Regions from separate parts of the Homo sapiens genome. Here region 1 is linked to region 2. A link means that fine-mapping ties the variant in region 2 to the expression of a gene that starts in the linked region. Tissue or cell type: whole blood. Region 2 holds a variant in brackets; the other region holds the start of a gene. All regions are shown on one strand. Distances are from middle to middle.

Region 1 (2,921 bases), 21 kb after region 2:
TCGAAGACACAATTTCTTGTTAGTGACTCTATGAAGCAGTTTGGATATGGAATACTTATTTGATTACATAACTATTGTTAATTTTCTCAGATGTGATAATGGCATCACAGTTATTAGGAGAATGCCCTTATTCTTTTTTTTTAGGGAACTTGTTCTAGGATGAATGTCCTTATTCTTATGAGACACATGTAGAGTATGTGGCAGTAAAATGTCATAACACAAGCAACTTCAAATGTTCTCCATTTAAAAGTATAAATAAAGTAAAAAGGAAGTACAGCAACTGTGCAAAATGGTAATTACTGGATCTAGATGAAAGGTATTGGTCATTACACTCTTTTTATCTGAGTTTTCTGTGTATTCAAAATTTTTCAAAAAAGAAGGGTTAGCAACCATATCAGGCAATTTGAAACCACAACTTAGAGAAAATAGGAAAAGACTTGCTTTTTTTTTTGTTTGTTTGTCTGGTAGCAGCTTCCTGCTGATTTCTTTATAAGAAAACAAATAATACCCCTTGAATCTGAGTGTTTTAGCATTCAAGATCATGGTATAAAAATCTTCAAGAAAGAACAATCACTTGGTAAGGTTTCTGTTTTCACACACAGAGACACAGCCATGATAGTCCAAGCGAATTTCCTAAACAATATTTTGCAGCAAGAGCTCTAATGAGCAGATCTTCAAAAAATTTTAGGATCCTTGACCCCTTGGAGAAACTCATGAAAGCTGTAGTTTCCCCCTAGAAAAGTGTACACCCCAAATTTTGTATACAAATTCAGGTTCCCCAGCTCGTTTCCAAAGCCTTTACAGGGGCCCCAAGTTAAGAACATTTGCCTGCTCTTTTGTGAACAAGCCAATGATAATACTAAAGATGAATAAATTTGTGTAAAATTTAAATATATAAACAATTCCCATTGAAATGACAGCTACTCTTTCACAAGCGTAAACTTCTATTGTAAACTTTCTGCTTTTATTTGAAAGGCAAAAGACTTTTTTTTCAGGACATAAAATCAAATATGAATTACATTCCTCTGGCTGCTGTTATATAGGCAAAAATCTAATTTCCAAAGCAGAACAAAACGTGTTTCTAGGTGCTTTGCTACCTGCGGTGCTGGTACACCGCCTCCGTATCTGGACACGAGTGACGACTCCTGCTCTTTTCTCCTTCCTCGGCCCCGTTAGAAATAAGCCCAGTTCCAATTTCAGAGCCAAATAGCTCCAAAAAGCATTGTGGGTATTGTAGTTTTCTGCACACGGGCACTAAAGGTAGGTTAGGGTGATTTACGGATGCTGCAAAAGAATCCATTGCTTACTACACCGAAGGTCAATGCCTCTTGACACCCTAATCAAGGAAATAAAATAAAGCTGACTGAGATCCGCTCGGAAAATCTTTCTGGATCTAAACTCCCAGTGCGCTTTGCGCCCCAAGTGGCCATCGCGCCTGCGCCCCGCGCGGCCGGTTACTCGCTTACCGGAGGCTTCAGTCCCCGGCGGCGCGGCGACAGCTAGGGTTCACGGCCACTGGGGCAGAGGAGCCGCGAGAAGATGTGGGTTTTTGGTTACGGGTCCCTGATCTGGAAGGTGGATTTCCCCTATCAGGACAAGCTGGTCGGATACATCACCAACTACAGCAGGCGCTTCTGGCAGGGCAGCACGGACCACCGCGGGGTCCCCGGCAAGGTGAGGCGCCGGTCAGCTCCCCACACTTACTGCCCCCTGACCCCTGCTCCCCAACTCCACACACAGCACCCACACCCTAGAGAACCACACCTTAGCGCTTCATGGGGCCAAAGCACATGGCTTGGGGTAACATTTCTGTAGATTTTCCCTGCCACCTGCCCGCCATCTCTAACCCAGCCCGGGCACTCCTTCCGAAGCTGCTTAAGATGCCGGTGGTTAGTCTCTAGAGACGGCGAGAAGCGCGGGCACAGGCGCACGAGCTCGCACCAGGCTGAGTGCGGAGATGGGGACTCCATCTCTCTGCAACCTCTGCCAAAAGAAAAAAAGTCCCATTGGCGGGAAGATGAATGCTCATGTCACCACAGAGTTGAAATAGTAAATCAAGTTGCAAATTCAGCTTTTTAGCAATTAAATTTGTTGGCATTTCTGCATTCTAGCCGACTTTCATGAGCTTGCGATTAAACGTGCATGTTACTTCTAGGATTTCTTTACATCTTTCAAAAGTTTTATTTTCTGACACACAGGATTGCAGAATGAGTTTCCAAAATTTTCGCTGGTTATTAAGGAACTCACTTTGGTTTTCAGTACTAGTGAAGTTAAATGAAGTTCTGGTTATATGAATAACATAGTACCAAACTCATTACTATATCCAGCATTATTTTAATGTTACTTTCTTGATGGTTCTCATAATTATAATATGAAATGTAAGTTCATTGATTCACTTTTCAGTCAGTCCTACAAAGACATTAATCTCAATATATGTATAGAGAATTAGCAGCAGCTCACTGCTTATGCAAATCAGCTTTGTACTGGCTACAAAACAACTAATCCATAAAGAAAACTAAGATTGAGGTAACTAATAATTTGGAAATTGGTCAATGGAAAGTGGAAAAGATCAAGGCGCTAAAGTAGTTTGCACCTGCTCATAAGAGAGACATGGGATTAAAATCACGAAAAGAACCTGAATTAGAAACCATTCTATCTCAACTAGAGTTGGTCAGTTAAGAACTTGGCTTTTAAGTAGACTATACTGGCCTATTGGGATGTTGGACACAGTGACCTGAAAAGGGGCAATGGCTTAGGATAAATGCACATTTACAGATCAACAGAAATGTCATGGCCAAAGTATCTCCAAGAATGTTCTAGAACAATATTCAAGACATTAAAGAACTAAGCTAAATTAAATGGCTTCTGAGTTGTCAGTTTTGGCTGGGCCCGGTAGCTCACGCCTCTGATCCCAACACTTC
Region 2 (2,921 bases):
TGAGCTCTGTGTAAAGAAGATAGTCCCATTACAAACAGTGGAGCAGTCGACTTTCCAGAGTCCCTCCATTTAGCTTTATGTTCAGTCATAATCAGATCCAACACACCTCTCATGTCAACAACTTTTCCGGTCACCTGGGAGATTTCCATAGTTCCATATTCACTTTCTACCCCTAGATCCTCTGGGTTTATATTCTATAGCCTCTAGCAATAGGCTAGTGCTAACTGGGCCATCAGGACAGGTCCTATAACATGTAATAGAGTATAGCTTCCCTTGAGGGAGAGAAACAAAATACCTCAAACAACATATTCCAAATTTTCAGTTTTGGAAGCTAACTCTACAGATGGGAAAGGAAGCTATTCTAGACAGGTTAACCTTCCTTTCTCACTTTAAGTCCAACTAGTCCAGCTACTCTTCCTCATCTAGAAATTATTTGTAGTTTGATACAAACCTTGAATTATTTTGGATTTTGTTTTAATTTTAAAACTCTTCCATTATAGACTGAAGCAGGAATCACTATATGGTTATTTAAAAGATAAAAAGATTGTCCAAGTGCAGTGGCTCATGCCTGTAATCCTAGCACTTTGGGAAACTAAGGGAGGAGGATCGCTTGAAGACAAGCCTGGGCAACATAGCAAGACCCCAACTCTACAAAAATTAAACATTAAAAAAAAATTAGCTGGGTGTGGTGGCGGTGCTTGTGGTCCCAGCTACTCAAGAGGCTGAGGCAGGAGGATAACTTGAGCCCAATAGTTTGAGGCTGTAGTGAGCTATGATTTTGCCACTGCACTCCAGCCTCGGCAAAAGAGCAAGACCCTACATCAAAAAATAAAAAAAGGTAAAGGTGAGCAAGGCAGAGTGCTAAAGTTTGTCCTATTATTCATGATGCAGAGAAGACACTGACACCCATATTATCTAACTAAAGAGTTATATGTCCATTCCTATTTTTTCCATACACAACACTGATGTATACATGCCCATTCTTCCACACACTGTTTTTTGGGGGGTTTTTTCTTTTTTTTTTTTTTGAGACAGAGTTATTGTTGTCCAAGCTGGAGTGCAATGGCGCAATCTTGGCTTACTGCAATGTCCGCCCTCCCGGATTCAAGTGATTCTCCAGCCTCAGCCTCCCAAGTAGCTCAGATTACAGGCATGTGCCACCACACCCAGCTAATTTTTTGTATTTTTAGTAGAAACGAGGTTTCACCATGTTAGCCAGGCTGGTCTCGAACCCCTGACCTCAGGTGATCCGCCCGCCTCGGCCTCCCAAAGTGCTGAGATTACAA[A/G]TGTGAGCTACCACACCTGGCCCTTCCACATTATGTTTTTACAAACACTAAGGCTCTACTTTCCTTTTTTTAAATACTATATTGGCCAGGCACGGTATTTTGTATTAGTCAATACAAAAGATTTATTTCTTAGTCAATACAAATTTACCATTTACAAAATGGTAAATTCACTGCCACAGAAACAAAATAAATCCTACTACTAAAAATAAGTGATTTAAAGTTATTTACTGGTTTGAATTATCTCCCATCCCTTGCTTCATTAACATAAAAAAGTACAAGTTAACTACATGTTGAAATATAAACCCCTAAAAACTATGCATCTCTAATTTTCTCCAAATACTAATAAAAGTAGGCACAATACTGAATTTCATAAATGGGACTCTAATAATAATAATAATAATTTGAAACTGTAAACTATGTGGCCAGAATAGCATTTCTCAAATAGTCCCATGGAATATCAATGTTTCTGGAGGTATTCCTAAATGTTCCATAAAGAAAAAGAATACAGCTGGGCACAGTGGCTCATGCCTGTAATCCCAGCACTTAGAGAGGCTGAGGCAGGCAGATCGCCTGAGGTCAGGAGTTCCAGATTAGCCTGGCCAACATGGTGAAACCCCATCTCTACTAAAAATATAAAAATTAGCCAGGCGTGGTGGCGGGGGCTTGTAATCCCAGCTACTCGGGAGGCTGAGGCAGGAGAAACACTTGAACCCGGGAGGCAGAGGTTGCAGTGAGCCGAGATTGTGCCATTGCACTCCAGGCTGGACAACGAGACTGAAAGAACAGTACAGTCAAATACGTTTCAAAGCTCTGCGATAAACAAATGTTGTTTAAGAGAGGTCTTCTCAGAATCCTTCATTCTTTTATTTAACAAATAATTTACTGAATACCTACCATATACCAGGCACTAAACTGAGTTTGGGAGTTACAACAGTGAACAAGATGAATAAAATCCCTGCCTTAATGGAACACTCTTTCTAGTTAAGGGGGCAGTAAATAAACAAGGGAGTAATAATTAACTGGAGTCAGTGATGAAGACACTAAAAGAGAATGCATAAAGAGATCAGTGGATACTTCAGACAGGGTGGGCACAATAAGTCACATATGTAATGTCTTCATGTTTTTCTACACTGGGGGATATAGCACATAGTGTTTCGCAAATGTATGTGATTAGGAAACCTTTTGTCAATAAACATGTTTTTAATAGTTCACTGAATCAGTTTTCTACCCAAAACACAGACAACAGCAAGATCAAGATTCAAAGATAGCTCTTCTCTTCCTAAATCCAGTCTTTTTAAAGTTTCCTCACCTGTAAAAGTGGGAATAATAATAGTACATGTCTCAGAATCACAGTGAAGATCCAATTATCTGCTTCATGTAAAACACCCACACAAGGCTTAGTATACACTCTGCTTAATAAATGTTATTGTTACTGTTAATACAGCACTCTGCACATGAAGTCTTCTGTCATTCAAGGGTGACTAATTATTCTCCCTTTTAAAATCTCAAACTTGTAAAATCACCTTTTTTACTCCTCCACGTAGACGATTTCTTGAGGAAAGCGGCTAGAATGGAGATTGCGTATAGCTGAGCCTCAATAAATGCTTCCTCTGTAGTTGTACAGAATATCCAAAG

Evidence for each region. PIP is the estimated chance that this variant, and not a neighbour inherited with it, causes the effect.
Region 1: CHAC2 starts here. The variant in region 2 is fine-mapped to the expression of CHAC2 in whole blood (INTERVAL, PIP 0.97).

What each region holds. Positions count from the first base shown.
Region 1 is chr2:53,766,348-53,769,268 of GRCh38, forward strand. CHAC2 (ChaC glutathione specific gamma-glutamylcyclotransferase 2) reads left to right here and starts at 1,457. Exons shown (of 3, transcript NM_001008708.4): 1 at 1,457-1,674. The coding sequence starts at 1,540. The region is part of intron 1 of ASB3 (ankyrin repeat and SOCS box containing 3); the gene reads right to left. All of the region lies in intron 1 of GPR75-ASB3 (GPR75-ASB3 readthrough), which reads right to left. RefSeq lists enhancers at 1,429-1,778, 1,799-1,988.
Region 2 is chr2:53,745,472-53,748,392 of GRCh38, forward strand. The region is part of intron 3 of ASB3 (ankyrin repeat and SOCS box containing 3); the gene reads right to left. All of the region lies in intron 3 of GPR75-ASB3 (GPR75-ASB3 readthrough), which reads right to left. Among named protein-coding and RNA genes, the nearest start is that of CHAC2, 21 kb to the right of the region's middle. The variant A/G (reference allele first, on the strand shown) is at 1,287.